Homo sapiens: one gene and its partner. The protein of the gene in region 1 interacts with the protein of each later gene in a biochemical or structural test. Each region holds a gene or a part of one and is shown on either strand. Other genes may lie near its edges.

Region 1 (4,948 bases):
TGAGTTCCAAAAAATATTGCTTTATTTGTTGTATGTTCACATTTCAAAATTGGTGAGGTGTGTTCTTTTTTCTTTTTCCTTTTCCTTTTTTTTTTGAGATGGAGTCTTGCTCTGTCGCCCAGGCTAGAGTGCAGTGGCTGGGACTACAGGTACCCGCCACCACGCCTGGCTAATTTTTTTTTGTAGTTTTAGCAGAGATGGGGTTTCACCATGTTAGCCATGATGGTCCCGATCTCCTGACCTTGTGATCCTCCCGCCTCGGCCTCCCAGAGTGCTGGGATTACAGGCGTGAGCCACCGTGCCCGGCCATCCTTTTTTTTTTCAAAGACATTGCTATGATGCCCAGGCTGTCATAGTACACTGCAGCCTCAAATTCCTGGGCTCAAGCCATCCTCCTGCCTCAGCCTCCTGAGTATACCCAGCTAATTTCTTTTTTCTCCTCCTTTCCTGTCCTGTCCTGTCCTTCCTTCCTATAGTTAAGTTTGACTAGGGGGTATGATTACTTATTTCTGAACTTATGCTTTTCTTGTAGTGTAGAAATACATGTGGCTTCTGTTCAAAATATTTGATAAAAATTTAGGCAAAGAAAAAGCAGGAATTTTTTTTTTTTGTTTGTTTGTTTTTGAGACGGAGTTTAGCTCTTATTGCCCAGGCTGGAGTGCAATGGTGCTATCTTGTCTCACTGCAACGGTGCTATCTTGTCTCACTGCAACCTCCGCCTCCCGAGTTCAAGTGATTCTCATGCCTCAGCCTCCCAAGTAGCTGGGATTACAGGAATGCCCCACCATGCCCAGCTAATTTTGTATTTTTTAGTAGAGACGGGGTTTCACCATGTTGGTCAGGCTGGTCTCCAACTCTTGACATTAGGTGATCCGCCTGCCTCTGCCTTCCAGAGTGCTGGGATTACAGGTGTGAGCCACCGCACTCGACCAGATTATTAGTTTTGTAAGACCGTTCCTTTGAGAATAGGTATGAGAAGATAGATTTTGGCTGATATCGTTAACCTGAAATTTAGACATAGAAAACAGTTCTGAGCTGTTAATATCAGCTGAATGGCAACAGTTGTTTTTCAACATACTGCTACAGCTGATGAGTTCAGTTTGTGTTGAAATAAGAACCTAGTAAAATGTATTTTTAAAAATATTTTTTAAGATTTAAATACAAATAATTTTAAATACAAAAAACTAGCTGGGCGTTTGAGCATTGCTATTTACTGCAACTCTAAAGAGTGAATGACCTGTTAGTCAGTACTGGCTGGCATACAGTTATACATTCTTGAATTTTACAAGTACTGTAGTTGGCTGAGAGCAGTCCTTGGCAATAAAGGTTTATCTTTCAGACCTGTGGAATATATTGCCCAAAGAGTTTTCCTAAAACAAGGATATGATGATCTCTTTGCAGATAGCATTTTACTTTTTTTTTTTTTTTTTAGACGGAGTCTCGCTCCATTGCCCAGGCTGGAGTGCAGTGGCGTGATCTCTGCTCACCACAAGCTCCACCTCCCGAGTTCATGCCATTCTCCTGCCTCAGCCTCCTGTGTAGCTGGGACTACAGGCGTCCACCACCATGCCCGGCTAATTTTTTGTATTTTTAGTAGAGACTGTTTCATCGTGTTAACCAGGATGGTCTCGATCTCCTGATCTCATGATCCGGCCACCTCGGCCTCCCAAAATGCTGGGGTTACAGTCGTGAGCCACCGTGCCCGGCCAGCATTTTACTTCTAAAGAAATGAAATGGGGCCAGGAGTGGTGGCTGATGCTTATAATCCCAGCACTTTGGGAGGCCAAGGCGGGTGGATCACCTGAGGTCAGGAGTTCAAGACCAGCCTAGCCAACATGGTGAAATCCCATTTCTACTAAAAGTACAAAAAATTACCTGGGCGTGGTGGCAGTCATCTGTAATCCCAGCTACTCGGGAGGCTGAGGCAGGCAAATGGCTTGAACCTGGGAGGTGGAGGTTGCAGTTAGCCGAGATCGCATCACTGCTCTCCAGCCTGGGCGACAGAGCGAGACTCTGTCTCAAAATAAAAAGAAAGAAATGAAGTATTCTGGTAAATGAATTCTTCTCCAGCTCTCAGTTGAAGCTTTGTTCTTTGAGGCTATAATGCTTGTAATACAAGCACAATTTGGACAAAAGCATTCTGGTGCCCATTAAGTCATTCAACTTTTTTTTTTTTTTTCTTTTGAGACTGAGTCTCACTCTTTCACCCAGGGTGGAGTGCAGTGGCACGATCTTGGCTCACTGCAACCTCCGTCTCCCAGGTTCAAGGAATTCTCTTGCCTCAGCCTTGCGAGAAGCTGGGATTATAGGTGTCCACCACCACGCCCAGCTAATTTTTGTATTTTTAGTAGAGAAAGGGTTTCACCATGTTGGCTAGGCTGGTCTCGAACTCCTGACCTCAGGTTGCCTCAGCCTCTCAAAGTGCTGGGATTACAGACGCGAACCACTGTGTCTGGCCCTTTTTATTTTTTTGAGACGGAGTTTTGCTCTTGTTGCCTAGGCTGGAGTGCAGTCGCGCAATCTCGGCTCACCGCAACCTCTGCCCCCTGGGCAAGATTCTCTTGCCTCAGCCTCCCAAGTAGCTGGGATTACAGGCATGCACCACCATGCCCAGCTAATTTTGTATTGGTAGAGACAGGGTTTCTCCATGTTGGTCAGGCTGGTCTCCTGACCTCAGGTGATCCACCTGCCTCGGTCTCCCAAAGTGCTGGGATTACAGGCATGAGCCACTGCGCCCAGCCTTTTTTTTTTTTTTTTTTTTTTTTTTTTTGTAATTGAGACAGAGTCTTGTTCTGTAGCCCAGGCTAAAGTGTAGTGGTGCTCTCAAGCGATCCTTCCACCACAGCATCCCTAGTAGCTGGGACCACAGGCCCACACCGCCACCACGCCCAGTTAATTTTAAAATTTTTTTTGGAAGAGACAGGGTCTTGTTTTGTTGCCCAGGCTGGTCTTGAACTCCTGGGCTCAAGCAGTCCTCTTGGCCTCTCAAATATGGGGATTACAGGCCAAGGCACCTGGATCCCAACGTTTTTTTTTTTTTTTTCTTCCCCAAAACATATAAGCACTTGATTAAAAAAAAAAAATAGTTGGACTCTTTCTTTCCCCCCCTTCTCACTATTGCACTTGACTAATTTTTTTTTTTTTTTTTTTAAGACAGTCTTGTTCTGTCATCCAGGCTGGAGTTGCAGTGGTGCGATCTCGGCTCGCTGCAACCTCTGCCTCCCAGGTTCAAGCAATTCTCCTGCCTCAGCCTCCCAAGTAATTGGGACTACTGGCGCATGCTGCCACGCCTGGCTAATTTGACTGATTTTATTTTATTTATTTTATTTTTGAGACAGAGCCTCACTGTGTCACCCAGTCTGGAGTGCAGTGGCACACATGTACTCCCAGCACTTTCGGAGGCTGAGGCTAGAGGATACCTTGAGCCCAGGAGTTTGAGACCACCCTGGGCAACATAGTGAGGGCCCTGTCTCTGCAAAAAGTAATTTGAAAATTAGCTGGATGTGGTGGCATACACCTGTGGTTTCAGCTACTCAGGAGGATGAGGCAGGAGGATTTTTTGAGCCCAGAAGTTGAAGGCTACAGTGAGTTGTGATCACACCATGCACTCCACCCTGGTCAACAGAGTGGGACAGTCTCTATTTGAAAAAAGAGGCCGGGTGCGGTGGCTCACACCTGTAATCCCAGCACTTTGGTAGGCCGAGGCAGGCAGGTCACAAGGTCAGGAGTTCGAGACCATCCTGGCCAACATGGTGAAACCCTATCTCTACTAAAATACAAAAAATTAGCCGGGCATGGTGGCGCGCGCCTGTAATCCCAACTACTCTGGAGGCTGAGGCAGGGGAATCGCTTGAACCCGGGAGGTGGAGGTTGCAGTGAGCTGAGATTGTGCCGCTGCACTCCAGCCTGGCAACAGAGCAAGACTCCATCTCAAAAAACGAAAAGAGGGCCAGGCACAGTGACTCACGCCTTGTAATCCCATCACTTTGGGAGGCCGAGGTGGGCAGGTCATGAGATCAGGAGATCGAGACCATCCTGGCTAACACCGTGAAACCCCGTCTCTACTAAAAATACAAAAAATTAGCCAGGTGTGGTGGCACACGCCAGTAGTCCCAGCTACTTAGGAGGCTGCGGCAGGAGAATCGCTTGAACCTGGGAGGCAGAGGTTGCAGTGAGCTAAGATTGTGCCACTGCACTCCAGGCTAGGCGACAGAACAAGACTCCATCTCAAAAAAAAAAAAAGGAAAGGAAAGAAAGGCCAGGCATGGTGCCTCACACCAGTAATCACAGCTCTTCTGGAGGTCATGGCAGGAGGATTGCTTGAGTCCAGGAGTTCAAGACCAACCTGGGCAATATGATGAGACCCTGTCTCTACAAAAATAAGAAATTTTAAAAAAAAGGAGGAAAGAGGCTAGGTACGGTGGCTCACGCCTGTAATCTCAGCACTTTGGGAGGCCGAGGCGGGGGGATCATGAGGTCAAGAGATCAAGACCATCCTGGCCAACATGGTGAAACCCCGTCTCTACTAAAAATACAAAAATTAGCTGGGCCTGGTGGCACACACCTGTAGTCCCAGCTACTTGCGAGACTGAGACAGGAGAATCACTTGAACCCGGGAGGCGGAGTTTGCAGTGAGCTGAGATCACACCACTGCACTGAAGCCTGGTGACAGAGCAACACTCCGTCTTAAAAAAAAAAAAAAAAAAAAAACAGGAAAGAAATGCATAGGGTTTCAGAGTAAGTTTTGATGTTTTTCCTCTATATAAATCGGATAAACTTCACACACCCCTATTCTTATCCTCTAATCTCTAAACTATATTCAACTCCCAATAGTTATAGAGATTATTTTCATTCACATGTTTGTAGTATTTATCAGTTTTGGCTTAATTTATTATTACTTAACTAATGAGTTATAACATTCCTTTTGGGAACGTTCAAATTAGAGCTG
Region 2 (3,500 bases), on another chromosome or scaffold:
GCCACTCATTCAACAGACCATTGCTGGTTGCCTTCTCTCTGCTCAGTTCTATGTTTGGCACAGCCTCAGTCTAGTAGGCTCACATTTTTTTGCCAGCAGTGGATCAGGGCCGGGCTGTGGGAATGACAGGAAGAGGGACATGTGAGAAGCATTTGGGGCGTGTCCTGGAGATCTGAATTCAGTGGCTCTGGCTAAGTGAGGACACTGTTCTTGTGGCAGACTGTGACCCTGCCCCCTTCCCACAGCTGGCTTTGGGGGCATCCTGGGGCTGGGCAGCCTAGGCCTGGGCTCTGCCAACTTCATGGAGCTGCAGCAGCAGATGCAGCGGCAGCTGATGTCCAATCCTGAGATGCTGTCACAGATCATGGAGAACCCCCTGGTCCAGGATATGATGTCTAACCCTGATCTGATGCGTCACATGATTATGGCCAACCCCCAGATGCAGCAGTTGATGGAGCGGAACCCTGAGATCAGCCACATGCTCAATAACCCTGAACTCATGAGGCAGGTGAGTATGAGAGGGCTGGAGAGCTGGAGGACACTGGTGCCCAGCCGTGCCCTGCCCAGCCTTTCCTACTTTGTCCTACATTGATTTGTTCATTCGTGTATTCAGCAGTTTTGAACACTGGAGGTACAGGGATGAAAAGACAGGCCTAGCTTTTCAGGAATTCCAGGTGTCAAAGGGAAGTAGGACAAGTAAACCGGCAATTAGAATACAATGTGGCCATTGCTATCAGAAGGATAATCATGGGATCCTCTAGGAGCATAGAGAAGAGCTCCTGACCCTACCCTAAGGCTTAGAGGAGGCCTTAAGAAATGTCACCGAGCTGAGACCCAAAGGAGGAAGACGAACCAGGGGGAAAGAAAGAAGAACATTCAGGGCTGAGGGACAGCAAATATAAAGGCCTGGGAGTGAAAGATAGTAGGTTGTTTGGGGAGCACTGTGGCTGGGCAGGGCCCAGTTGGGAATGGAGAACCAGGGGAGACTGTTGTGATGTTGCTCTTTGGGAGTTCCAGCTCATGGTCCGCTCCACCAGAGGACCAAGGTAGATGATCTTCCCAGCAGGGCTGTGGACACCAGTGCTGGACTCACCAGAAGATAATTTATGTAAGGTCAAGGACTTGTGAGTGTTTTGTTCACTGTCTAGAACAGTGCCTGGTGCGTGGTAGTCATGCAGTAAATATTTATTGAATGAATGAATTACGGAACAAGAGATCAGAGTTCTGGGAAGCTGGGCATATCAGTTATAAAGGAGTCTTAGAAAAGGCAAGTGTGGAGCACATTTGGGAAGGAGAGGGAAGGTATTCCAAGTTGAATGGGAACAAGTAGTTATACTTATTTTTCTGTGATGAACTCCCCCGGGGTTGACATAGCCACCCCTTATTGAGATTGTGCCATTGGCTCCATAGAAGAAAGCCCCCATCTTCAGTGTTTCTCAAGGTTCAGGCAGAGCAAAGACTTGGGGGTGGGAATTACAGGGTGTCAGTAGCTTTATTCCAGCTTGAACGCTTTCCTTCCCCAACTTGCAGTCATTTACCAGGAATCACAGTATGGTCTTGGACAGACCAACCAACCTGGCTTTGAACACTGTCTTCACCACTCAGTGACTGTGTGTCCCAGGGCAGCAAGTCAATTAACATCTCTGAGCCTATTTGCTCATCTGCAAAATAGGGACAGAAATAAACACCTGAGATGGTTATTGTGGAGATTACATGACTTGAATTCCGTAAGCTACTTGGCCCTGTGCCCATATACAGTAGGTTCTCAGTAGATGTTAATTTTCTCTTCTGCCTCCTCCCCTTTCTTTCTGTGTCTCTTCTGACTCAGTTTCCTTGTGCACCCTGACACTTCTTTGGACACTCTGAGCCTAAGGGAGGGAAGCTGCTGCCCTCACTTCAGCTGGGATCATTGTCCTCCACTAGAAAAAGCCAACCAAAATACCCACAGGGAGGCGGGCTTGGAGCCAAGATTACAGTAGAGGAAGGAAGTCCAGTTTACTCTACTCCCTGTCACTGTGGGGCAGTTCCTGGGCCCTGGTCCTGATCCTGATACAGACCCCCCTTCCTCAAGGCCCACCCTTTTCCTAGGTTGGTGCTCCCCTGGTTCCGGGGCCCATTTTGTCTCTCTCCCTTGATCAGACAATGGAGCTTGCTCGGAATCCAGCCATGATGCAAGAGATGATGCGGAACCAGGACCGGGCCCTGAGCAACCTTGAGAGCATCCCTGGAGGGTATAATGCCCTCCGCCGCATGTACACGGACATCCAGGAGCCCATGTTCAGTGCTGCCCGGGAACAGGTGGGATCAAGGGCCAGGGTAGTGGGTTGGGCTGTCTGGGCTCGAGATTCCCTACCCCCACCCCAGGCAAACCTGGGCCTGCTCTTCTTTCTTTCCCCAGTCCCCTGAGGGGTGGGCCTTGGCTTGAAGGCAGTTCTCAACAGTACATATCCGGGGATGGTCCATTTTGGCATGGACAAATATAAGCAGAGGTCCTTGTGGAAGTGGTTGAGGCATAGCATCCAAGGAACTTGACATCCTGACAAACTTCTTGTACCAGGGGCTCAAAGGTCACGTGGCAGGCCTGAGGTCAGACGCCAGCCCTGATACAGCATGTCTCAAGTATGGTCCATGGATCACCTGCATCAGAATCACCTGGGGACCTTGTTGATAATGAGAATCCTGGTCCCCACCTTTGAGCTACTTATTGAATCCATTTCTGGGGTTGGGCCCCAGGATTATACACTTTTAAAAATGCTTTATGAATCCTATTCAAGTACACACAAAAAAATAGATAAAAATGTAACATTCTTTTTTTTTGTTTTTAATCAATGTTGCCCTAACATGTTGCCATATATAATTTCAGTGCCCTTTTGGTTCTTTCTTTCTTTCTTTTTTTTTTTTTTTTTTGAGATGGAGTCTCGCTCTATCGCCCAGGCTGGAATGCAGTGGCGCAATCTCGGCTCACTGTAACCTCCGCCTCCCGGGTTCAAGCAATTCTCCTGCCTTCTCCCTGGTGGCTAAGACTACAGGTACATGCCACCACGCCCGGCTAACTTTTTATATTTTTAGTAGAGATGGGGTTTCACCATGTTAGCCAGGATGATCTTGATCTCCTGACCTCATGATCCGCCCACCTTGGCCTCCAAAAGTGCTGAGATTACAGGAGTGAGCCACCGCGCCTGGCCATGGTTCTTTTTAAAAATTTAATTTTACATTAAACACATTCTATGTTTGTATGTTTGAAAATGCAAAAGTTGGCCAGGCGCAGTGGCTGACACCTGTAATCCCAGCACTTTGGGAGGCTGAGGTGGGCGGATCACGAGGTCAGGAGATCGAGACCATCCTGGCTAAAATGGTGAAACCCCATCTCTACTAAAAATACAAAAAATTAGCCGGGCATGATGGCACATGCCTGTAGTCCCAGCTATTTGGGAGGCTGAGGCAGGAGAATCGCTTGAACCCGGGAGGCAGAGGTTGCAGTGAGCCAAGATCGTGCCACT

What was found. The genes of interacting proteins can lie anywhere in the genome.
Region 2: the proteins of GJC1 (region 1) and UBQLN4 form a complex in vitro, tested with the Homo sapiens proteins (one study listed by BioGRID).

The regions. Positions count from the first base shown.
Region 1 is NC_000017.11:44,823,011-44,827,958, reverse strand, and holds part of GJC1 (gap junction gamma-1 protein), read left to right. Parts: intron 1-4,948. UniProt on the Homo sapiens protein: One gap junction consists of a cluster of closely packed pairs of transmembrane channels, the connexons, through which materials of low MW diffuse from one cell to a neighboring cell.
Region 2 is NC_000001.11:156,047,299-156,050,798, reverse strand, and holds part of UBQLN4 (ubiquilin-4), read left to right. Parts: intron 1-245; coding exon 246-508; intron 509-2,139; coding exon 2,140-2,298; intron 2,299-3,500. UniProt on the Homo sapiens protein: Regulator of protein degradation that mediates the proteasomal targeting of misfolded, mislocalized or accumulated proteins.